Linked DNA regions of Homo sapiens. The protein of the gene in region 1 interacts with the protein of each later gene in a pairwise test. Each region holds a gene or a part of one and is shown on either strand. Other genes may lie near its edges. The genes, in order: NFU1, SH3BP4 and ZSCAN5A.

The links.
Region 2: the proteins of NFU1 (region 1) and SH3BP4 interact in a two-hybrid assay, tested with the Homo sapiens proteins (one study listed by BioGRID and IntAct).
Region 3: the proteins of NFU1 (region 1) and ZSCAN5A interact in binary tests that used the Homo sapiens proteins (3 or more experiments, as listed by UniProt).

The regions. Positions count from the first base shown.
Region 1 is NC_000002.12:69,395,816-69,399,565, forward strand, and holds the end of NFU1 (NFU1 iron-sulfur cluster scaffold homolog, mitochondrial), read right to left. Parts: intron 476-3,750; coding exon 431-475; 3' UTR 311-430; downstream 1-310. UniProt on the Homo sapiens protein: Iron-sulfur cluster scaffold protein which can assemble [4Fe-4S] clusters and deliver them to target proteins.
Region 2 is NC_000002.12:234,950,054-234,953,803, reverse strand, and holds the start of SH3BP4 (SH3 domain-binding protein 4), read right to left. Parts: upstream 1,788-3,750; 5' UTR 1,634-1,787; intron 1,090-1,633; exon of another isoform or gene 1-1,089. UniProt on the Homo sapiens protein: May function in transferrin receptor internalization at the plasma membrane through a cargo-specific control of clathrin-mediated endocytosis.
Region 3 is NC_000019.10:56,224,128-56,227,877, forward strand, and holds part of ZSCAN5A (zinc finger and SCAN domain-containing protein 5A), read right to left. Parts: intron 1,047-3,750; 5' UTR 920-1,046; coding exon 536-919; intron 1-535.

The DNA.
Region 1 (3,750 bases):
CATTTTTAAAACAGACTTGTTTAGCTGTTTCTTAAGCTAAAAACTTCAGTAAAAATAGTTTTAGATATTTCACAAAAAGCTATTTTAGAATATTCTAAAAAGCATTCTGTTTCTTCCTGTATGGAAAAAAGTAAATAAATTAGATGGGGGGAAATGTATTTTAAACTCCTTCACACATATGCAAAGAAAGAGCCATGGGAAATGAGGGACAAAAATAAAAATATCCTTGGATAAAATCCACGTGTACAGAAGATGATTCAAGAGGTTATAAATAACTCATATGAGGTAAAGCAAACATGCAATATTTATATATCATTCTCTGAAGAGCATATTTTATTAATCTTCAAGTTCCTCAGCATATTAATAATAAAAACTTGATATATATTATCAACAAGTCTGACTGTTATGCCCAAAGAAAATCCAGATTATTTTAAGGTGAGTTTGCTTCTTTTTCATCTGATTCATCATCCATAACCTAAAACCAAAAAACAAAGACAATTTAAGAATTAAGAAAATGATTAGATTTTGCTGTTTTCCTGATTTTAATATTACTTCTTTACCTGATACACTCTATAATGAGGCATGACAAGCCAGTAAGAATAAATCTATCAACAGCCCCAAAGAACAAGGTTTGAATCATAACCCGGTATCCTAAAAACATAAAAGCAACCCCATCTCTACTGAAAATACAAAAAATTAGCCAGGCGGGCGCCTGTAGTCCCAGCTACTCGGGAGGCTGAGGCAGGAGGATGGCGTGAACCTGGGAAGCAGAGCTTGCAGTGAGCCGAGATCGCGCCACTGCACTCCAGCGTGGGCAACACAGCGAGACTCTGTCTCAAAAAAAAAATAAAATAAAATAAAAGCAAATTAAATATTTGGAAATTAATTAAAGCATTGATCACTTCTCCTTGTCTCAAAGAGGCTACCCATAGCAGAGTCTCAGCTGGGCAGAAAAGACTATAAATAATTAACTGGGGCCAGGCGCGGTGGCTCACGCCTGTAATCCCAGCACTTTGGGAGGCTGAGGCAGGCAGATCATGAGGGCAGAAGATCAAGACCATCCTGGCTAACACAGTGAAACCCCGTCTCTACTAAAAATACAAAAAATTAGCCGGTCGTGGTGGTGGGCGCCTGTAGTCCCAGGTACCCGGGAGACTAAGGCAGGAGAATGGCATGAACTGGGGAGGTGGAGGTTGCAGTGAGCCTAGTGCCTGGTGATAGAGCACTCCAGCTTGGTGATAGAGCAAGACTCCGTCTCAAAAAAAAAAAAACAATTTAACTGGTATTCTCTAGCCATAAGACTAATGTAAATGACTTTTTCTTTTTTTCAAAACCATCTTATTTACTTAAATATATTCTGTGAAGCTATACCAAATTGTTATTTTAAAAACATTTATTTTTATTAAAATGAATCCCCAAGGAAAGTGAAAAACAAAACAAAACAAAAAAACCCCACCATATTAGGAACTAATTATTTTAGTCTTACTGAGATAAAAGATCATTTTAAGCCTCAGGAAAATGTTACAACAGCTATTATCTTTCCATGAGTTAATGTATTACTAAGATAACAGACTAACTCCATTGGAGAAGGAAAAAGTTACATAAACCTAAGAATGTTTTTTTCTCCTCACCACACCTACTACAATTAGATGCCAATTCAAGTTTCTAATCTGAAGGCCAATTCATCACCCTACCCTGGACAATTGAATAAAAATGTTCCTCAGTCAATCCACCAAAGTATCAACTAACATAATTTTTTAAGGCATATAGATGATAATGGAACAAAGTAAGGTTTTTTTTTTTAAAAAAAATCTAGGCCAGGCACAGTGGCTCATGCCTGTAATCCCAGCACTTTGGGAGGCTGAGGCAGGTGGATCACCTGAGGTCAAGAGTTCAAGACCAGCCCGGTCAACATGGCGAAACCCCCATCTCTACTAAAAATATAAAAATTAGCCAGGCGTGGTGGCGCGCGCCTGTAATCCCAGCTACCTGGGAAGCTAAGGCAGGAGAATCATTTGAACTCGGGAGGTGGAGGCTGCAGTGAGCCAAGATCAAGCCATTGTACTCCAGCCTGGGCAACAAGAGTGAAACTACGTCTCAAAAAAAAAAAAAAAAAAAATCCAGATTCTGGCTCTGATCTGAGACAATCAATAGAAAAAGAATTCTTTCATAGGCTGTCTTTTTGGTTGAGTAAAAATTGGTATTTATTCCCAAGAAATTAATATTTTACATCCAATTTCAACAATACCCAATCCAAAAAATTTTGTCAACCAACTCATATTTTAGGCAGAATTATTCCTTAATTTGGAATAATATTCCCAAATACTTAATACAAAGCATGTATAGGACATTTGTAAGGCACACAGCTAGTTGTTGCAGAGGAACACAAAGACTTGGATATGATTTCAAGTCTCTTAGGGAGCTTCCACGTAAACATAAAGCTAAAACAGATACAGAAAGCTACATAAACATAAAGCAAAAACAGAAGCTTTGGACCTGTCAAAGAAGAACTTAATTCCAAGTGGGGGATGGATAAAAACTTCAAAGAGAAGATGTCATGTACTGGACCAAAACGATGGTGTGGAGGCTAAAGCAACTCCATCTTGGATGCTAATCTGCCACATTGACTACCCTCAGTTCTAGGAATGCCTCTAAGTTTTCTACTTAATTCTGCCTTTAGGTCAAAATAATCTTGATGTTATCCTAAACAAACACATACTTAGCATAAATCTTGCCCTTAAGCAAATTATAGGCTATTAGGCAAATAGCATTCTTGCCTTTTCCAGAGGGGCTGACTTCAATTGTCCTACACATATCTTCTGAAGCATGTATACCCATTCCTCCTGGTATATAAGCCCTGAGTCTAGCGGGTAACAATGCAGGAATCCATCATCTTGCAGCTGCCCGATAAATGGCTTCTGTTCCTCAGTCCCTATTAAATGTTTCTTTCTGACCAACTGGATTTGCCAGCCTCTGTCTTCAGCCTCTCAGCTCCCTAAGACTTTGGGGATAGGTCTATATAGACCTGCTCACTGTGGAACAGATGAATTTTAATACTACCCAAGGATGAGTGATTCCCAATGGAGCCCTTAAGGGCACAGAATTACCTGAGGTGGTCAGGCACGGTGGCTCATGCCTGTAATCCTAGCACTCTGGGAGGCCGAGGCGGGCAAATTGCCTGAGCTCAGGAGTTTGAAATCAGCCTGGGCAACATGATGAAACCCCGTCTCTACTAAAATACAAAATACAAAAAATGGTGGCATGTGCCTGTAATCCCAGCTACTCATGAGGCTGAGGGATGGGAACTGCTTCAACCTGGGAGGTGGAGGTTGCAGTGAGCCGAGATAGCGTGTCACTGCACTCCAGCCTGGGCAACAGAACAAGATTCTGTCTCCAAAAAAAAAAAAAAAAAGAATGAATTACCTGAAATTCTGTGGGTTGGAAATTTCTAATTTCCACACATCCCTTCACTCCTTGATAATCTCTCTCCATAAGGCCATGCTTTTTGGTTGAGAATCACTGCAGTGAGACTCATTATTACTGATGACAAGGTGCTGTGTTATACTCCTTAGGTATGTTGGCAAAAAAAAAAATGTTGATATTGTGCTACACGTAAAGCTCTAGAATTCTACTCAGTATAACAACAAACTATGATTTCTTAATGGGCTTCTTGCTTGCATATTTAAGAATACATAGATTAGGCCAGTTGTGTTAATCCTTAATCCCAGCATTTTGGGAGGATCACCTGAG
Region 2 (3,750 bases), about 170 Mb from region 1:
TCAGGGCTCCACTGGACATTCCTGGAGTCTGTTTCCTGGGCAGGACGGCCAGGTGAGAGGCAGCCTATTACACTGCATGACCACTGCAATGAGGAACAGTAGAATGTTCCCCAGCGCCTTAAAGTACAGCCGCTGTCCATCCACGGATGTCAAAACGCTCTGCAAACCACCCATTAATTTTTATGGTGGCTTGAGAAGCAGATTGAGAATCATTACCTTCATTTTTACAAGGCAAGGAACCAAAACCACAGAGGGCGGTGAGGATCCAGGCCTCTCCCATCATTTCATCTGGGCCACGGATCTCAAGGAAAGCCCCCAGCCCACTGGGAAGGGGACTCGTGGCCAGCAGAGATTCTGCCCGGGTAGGGAGCAAGGAAAAAACCCAAACTTTGGAGCTCAGAGACGGTCACAAGGGTGAGAAGGGGCGGCTGCATTCAGGGATTCTCTGGTTTAGGCAAGAATGGCTCCAGTTCTAACTTAATGTTCAAATCTGCCAGGCTGTGACAAGGCTGGTAAAAAATGTGGGATTGGGGATGGTTTCCTGTTTGCTGTTTATATTTCTCTTTATCTCTAGCTTTCTGTCCTGAGCATACATTGTTTCTGTAATCAGAACAAAAGTTATGCGAACTTTATTATTATCACGGATAAATTCTATAGTTCCAATCTGCCTACTAACTTGGAAAGAATAAGCAGGAATACAATCTCGCACAGTGTTCTTTTTCAGATCTCATCGATCCATCAGGCTCCACGACCCTCTGCTCGCTGAGTCCGGCGGCTCTCCCGCGGCTCCTCCCGCGCGGCATCTCTGGGCGCCCGACACCCGGTCAGGGCCAGCTGGGCCTGTCCCCAACCCCCGTCTACACCGCAGGCCCCGGGCTAGGAGCCGCGGGACCCAGGGTTGGGGTCCCAACTGACACCCGCCCGTGCCGCGGAGCGGGCTTCTCGGTAAACATCGCTCAGAGAACAACGCGCCTCTATCCCAGCCGGTCCCCGCCCGCGGGCCGCCGGCGCTGTCACCTCGCGGCTGCTCGGTCACCCGATCGCCAAGCCAGAAACCGGAGTTTTCAATTTCATCCTCACAGGAGGGATCTCCGAAGAAGTTGAAATATGCATTGTCACCAACAAGTTTAACCGGAGACCGCGCGTCCTTCCCTCCTCCCCAGCGCCGCTCGAGGGGGGCGCCCCGACCCCTCCACGCCCTCCCGTGGCCCCCACGGCCCCCGTGAGCCGAGCGCGCCCCCCGATTTGCGCCCGAGGACGCGTCCGGTTGCCCAGGGAGGCCACCCCGCAGGGCCGCCCGCCGGGAAGTGGCCAGAGCCGGGGTTGGGGGGCGGCCCGAGCGCACGCGGAGGGCTGCGGCTCGGCGCCCGGAACCCCGGGCCGGGTCCCTGCCCACCAGCACCAGGGAGACCCGAGCGCCCGGGGGAGCGGCGAGGGGCGCGCGAGGCTTCCCCGAAGCCGCCCCACGCCCAGGCACCCGCGCAGCCCCGAACTCAGGCGGCGGTGGCACGATCGGCGCCCGCGGCACGATCTGCGCCCGCAAGGGAGTGCAAAGCCCCCGAGCACGACCCCGCGCCCCCGCCGGCCCCCAGGGCCCTGCCGCCCGAGGCGCTCCCCGCCGCCGCCTGCCTACCTGGCTCGCATGGCGTCCCCGCCGGCTCCTGAGGCTCCGCTCGTCGGCCAGCGGCTCGGCCCAGCCGGGGGCGCGCGCGGCTCCGCGGGACTCACGGCGGCGGCGGCGGCGGTAGTGGCGAGGGGCCCGGACCGCCGAGAGTGCCGGGCGCGCTGGGCCCCCGCCTCGGCGGGCGGAGGGTGGTCCCGCGCCTGGGCGGGGGCGGGGGCGGGGGCGGGGGCGGGGGCGCGGGGGGCGGGGCCAGGACCGGAGCTGAGGCCGCGGAGGGGGTGGTCCCGCGCCGGGGCGGGGCTTCGGGAGAGGGGCGGGGCGGGGCGCGGCCGTCTGAGGCTGGCGAGCGTGGGGCGGGCTGGGGGTGGTGCCGCGGCTCCGGGTCCAGGCGGGTATCCAGTCTGGGCGCCTCCTCTTCTTCCTCCGCCCGGAGCCGGCCAGGGTAGCGGGGCCTTGGCCGCCCGGCATCCTCGGGTCTGGGTCCCCGGTACCGAGCAGGTCTGGGTGCTGGCCCGCGCTCCTGTGCCCCCCCGCACCCCCATCTCCCACCCCTTCTCCGGGAACCCCTAGCGAGGACCCCTGGGGCGGTGCGGTCCCCCCGCGAGCGGGCGTGGGCGAGGGTCGCGCCGCGTTCGGAGACGCTTTACTACACCTTGGCTGAGGACAGTGGAGGGAAGGCAGGCGCGAGGCTGCGGGGGCCGGAGCGAAAGTTACAAACTAACAACAGGGAAGGCAGTCCGGCTGAAAATCATAAAAGGAGGAGAGTTTCCTGCGAAGCGGAATGCAGATTGAAGGGCTCTGGTCGGAATCGTTTACACTTTGTCTGACCTGGGCGCCTCTGGGCCCCCGGCGCGTAAAACAGGCCTGGCACGTAGTAGGCGCTCCATCAATGCCCAGTGAGTGAACGCACCACTTAACTATGTGGCCAGCAACGTCTATGGACCGACACATCTAATCCTAAAAAAAAAAAAAAATCCCAATTTTGGCTAGTCCATTTCACACGAGTAAACTAGAGCTCGGAGGGTTGGTTCGCCACAGAGGAGAAGGGTAGAACCAGAATCTGAACCGAGGCCGACTCCAGAGGCTGGGGTCTAACCACTGCGCCACTGCCTGGGGCCCTCGGGACTGCGCCCACCCCCACCCCGGGAACCCGGAGCCCAGGAGAAAGCGCGGGTCTTTGCCGGGGAAGAAGCCAACATTTGTTGCTCCTGGTCCTGAGCGAGACACACACAGTCAGTCCTCACCATTAACCCCGAGGCAGATATTGTTATTGTCCCCGTTTTTATAGGTGGCTTGAGACGTGCAGCACTATGTTATGATCGCATGGGGCGTGCCAGAGTCTGAATTCAAACCGGGTATGTTCAGACTCCCGAGCCCCTGCGGCTGCCCCTAAGGCCTGCCGCTCCTGCCGTCTGGGAGACCTTCCTTTCCCTAAGGAATCTGGTTTTCTGCCACTCCATTTGAAGTCTGTGTTGAAGTTTCAGGAGACACAGGTGGACAGAGGCACCGACCTAGGGCTCGGGAGAAGGGTGGACATTGCTGTTCCGATTTTGGTGTCATCTGTGTGTAGATCATGGAATTCCTGAAAATGGATACGAGTATCCCTAAAATACATGCCGCAGATTTTGAAAGGAGGCAGTGAGGCGAAGGGGCAGGTGGAGGAAGCAGAGAAGCCTCCGAGCAGAGGAGAGTTTCTGGGTGGCTAGGAGGTCTGATTGGTGTAGGGATGTGTCTGGAGTGTGCTTGAATCTCTGGCAAGTTATCTCGCCTCTCTGTGACTCAGTTTCCTAAATGAGTGTAAAAATGAAAGGCAGCATGTAAAGTGCTCAGCAGACTGCCTGGCACACAGTAGCTTTCAGTAAGTTTTAGCTACTATTAGTACTGCTATCCCAAATGACATCCACACTGTGTTTTTTAAAAAATGCCTATAAAAACATTGAAAAAGACAAGCCAGTAGAAAATGGACAAAAGCTATGAAGGTAATTCCTGAAATGCCACAAATGGCTCAAAGCATGAAAAGCTCCTTGACTATACTAGTGAGGGAGCTAAGGCAAAACATACACACACAAAAAACAATCGAATAAGAAAACTCAAGGCCTGTCCAGGCAGCTCAGTTCACTGAGCAG
Region 3 (3,750 bases), on another chromosome or scaffold:
ACTCAATTGGCCGATGGCAGCTCACCTTGTATTAGAACTTAGGGGCTCATTTGGGGACCTGGGGGCAGATCCCTGCATCTGATACCAACCACTTTCCCTGCTTCAGGATGGGACTCCTGGGCCCCCCTTCAGTTCACTCTAATGCCTCCTTCCCTACATTCCATCAGGCCTAATATTTCACCAATGTCTTTCTTTCATGTTGGCCTCACACAGTGTGTGGGTCCCTGTACCCCCTCTGCCTGTCCATCTCCTACACCAGGAACTTGCCGTCTCAGCACAGCTGATATTGGAATCTGGATGATTATTTGTCATGATGGGTTGTCCTGAGCGTTAGAGAACGCTTAGCAGCGTCTCCTGTCCTCCCTGACAACAAAAACTGTCCCCAGACACTGCCATGTGTCCCCGACGGGCAAACTCTCCTCTACTTGGAAGCCCTGACCTAGAGCAGCCCCTCGGGTCCTCTCGAGTCCAGCTGCACCGTGCAGCCCCCATCCCAGCTCCCCTTCCCTGCACCAATCACGAGGGTCCCACTCACCCATTTCTTGGGTCTTCTGTTATTTCGTAGCAGGTCCTCCAGGTCTTTGCAGCTCTGCACACCGTTCATCATGACTAAGACCTGGAGCTCCTGGGGCATGGAGATCATGAACTGCTCCATCACCAGCATGTCCAGGATCTGCTCTTTGGTGTGGAGGTCGGGCCTCAGCCACAGATGGCACAGCTCAGTGAGTTTCCTCAGAGCCTGGATGGGGTCCGACTCCTTCGGGCAGCTGAACATCCTGAAGTTCACGTGAGAAATCTCAGGGTCCACGTCGTGATTTCCAAGTTGAGTTTCTGAGGATGCCATAGACCGTGGCAGCTCCAACCCAGGTCTGTTGCAGGATTCTCCTAGACTCCATGAGGATGTGCAATTTGCAGCCATATCTAGTGGAGAATTTTTTAATCAGTCTCTGAGAAAGCTCTTCCAGTAGCTGGTATCTAATTGATACCTATCTACACAGGCTTCCTCTGGTTTTCCTCAGTAATAGATTCACTGTTCATTCAGAAGTCTGGGGGGGAAAAGTATGAGCCTCATTAGTTTAAGTTACTACTCCATCCATCCCTCCCTTCGAAATCCCTCATCCTGGATGCCACTTCTTCAGCAGCATCGAATTCAGCACAGTGGAAATCTTCCAGTGTCTATACCTGACTACATACTCTGGTTTAAAATCTTAATGACCCCTGGATTCTGATCTCTAGGAAATCACTGTGCAGAGGCTGAATCAGTTTTCCTGTCAATTGGAACAACATTGTTCTTGACTATAAATTAAATAAGATAGTTAGGTGAAGCTCTGAAAATGTGATGCAACAATAAAGTAAGCCCTTTATGTTTCCCCATCAGGACAAGATCCAAGGCAAAGCCCTTAGTCATAATTATGCAAAAGGATAGAGAAAAAGAGTTAGAATGTAATATTTTCCCCAACACATATTCTTGTTAACTCCAGAACATTTACTTGCTCCAGGGAAGGGACAGCATTAAAGGATCCTATGAGGATTAAGCACCTACACAGATATTTTGTTATTTTGGTAAAATGTACATTCATAAATTTCATCATTTTTTACTCTCTTCAAGTTCACGATTTTATGGGACTAAGACATGCACCATGTTGTACAACCATTACCACTGTTTACTTCCAGAATTATCTCATCAACCCAAAAGCAACCCCATCCCCATCAGTGATCACCCCCTGCCCACCCACCCCAGCCCCTAGCAATCACTAATCTACCTTCTGTCTCTAAGGGTTTCTGTATTCCTAATCTCATCTCAGAAAATGGATTTAAAGTCTAGTGCTCTTTGATATTTTAAAGAAGTGGGTTGATACAATAATAAGATTTTTAAAAATTAATTCCTAAACCTAGCTTCATTAGGCAGGAGCCACTGAGTGATACTCTCCAGGCATCAATTATCGTCCAAGTTCAACAGCTATGAGAACACAGCCCTGCTTTCCTAGACACAGGTGGGGGAAGCAACCTGAAGGTCTGCAGAGGGGAGAAAAAACTGGCAGAAGGGTCTTGGGAAAAGTCACTGGTAGCCTGGAGGGCGAGTGCCCCACACTTCCTGGAAGGACTTTGAGCAAGTGCAGAACAGAGAGACAGCCAGGGAGACAATCGGCAGAGGCGGGAGACAACCCAGAGGAGGAGACAATATTTACACACCACACATCTCACGGGGCTCCTGTGCAAAACATAAGCAACTCAAACTCCTCCAGAGCGAGAAAACACATAACCCACTAGAAGGGCTTAAGGCGCCTGTGTGGACATCTCAGATGAAGACATGTGAATGGCCAGCAGGTCTAGGAAAAGGTGCTCATTATCACTCATCATCAGGGACATGCAAATCCAAACCACAAGGCACCCCTCACGCCTGCTAGAGTGGCTGTTCCCAAAAAGACACATGGAACGAGTGTTGGTGAGGATTTGGGGGAAAGGGGTCCTCTGCGCCCTGTGCTGGGATGTAAATTAGAGCAGCCGATATGGGAGACAGTATAGAAGCTCCTCAGAAAATTGAAAGTCCAACAACTGCATGATCCGGCAATCCCGCTCCGGGGCAGGTACACAGAGGAAAGGAAATCAGGACGTGGACTCCAAAACAGTGAAACTCTGGAGGGATAGAGGGAGGGAGGGTTGAAAAACTACCTATTGGGTACTATCCTCATATCCTGGGTGATGGGTAGAGTCATACCTCACACCTCAGCATCACTCAATATACTCATGCAACAAATCTGCACAGGTACCCACTGAATCTAAAACACAAGTTCAAATTACAAAAAAAAATTTAAAAAGAAGTAAATAACATAAATAATAATTAAAAACCCAGTGGAACTCATAGTAGTAGTGAGTAGAATAGTTACCAGGGCTGGGGTAGGGGTTGGGAAGATATAGGTCAAAGAGTACAAATTTCAATTGAAGAAATCAATTCAAAAGAGCAATTGTCCAACATGGTGACTTCAGTTCATAACAATGTATTGTATACTTGGAAACTGCTTAAAAAAAATTAGATTTCAAGTATTCTCAAAACCAAAAATGGTTAGTACATGAGGTAGGGCATATGAATATTAGCTCAATTTAGCCATTTAACAATGTTTGTAATACTACAAAGCATATTATGCTATATGCCATAAATATATACAATTTTTAGTTTTCAATTAGAAGCAAATTAATTTTTATTGAAAAAGCACACAGATATGATAGAGAAAAGGGAGCCTGAAATTCTGGAATTAAAAGTGGTTTTGCCAGAGGGCGCCTGCTGCTGCTCAGGAGGCAGAGGCGGAGGTGGGAGGATCACTTGAGCCCAAGTGTTTGATAACAGCCTGGGCAACATAGTGAGATCCTGTCTCTAAAAAAGAAAGTGGTTTCATGTTCCTAGAAATCACTTTGTATTTGATCTTAGTTCATTCCCCGTTAAAGTAAGAAACAAGACACAGGAAAAAATAAAGGCAGACACAGGAGTTAGTATTCAATTCTGGGAGTATATACCACACGGGTCACCCAGGTAGGGACACTTAGCTCAGATTCTCATTGGCCTAGTAGGTTGATGCTCATTCATCAATGATTTGATTTCACCCTGTGCAAAGGGAAAATCCAGCAATGCTTTTTAAAAAGGGTGTGTGGCAGGCAAAGTGGCTCAGGCCTGTAATTCTAACAGGTTGGAAGACCGACATGGGAACATGCTAGAGCCCAGGAGTTCAGGACCAGCCTGAGCAATATACCGAG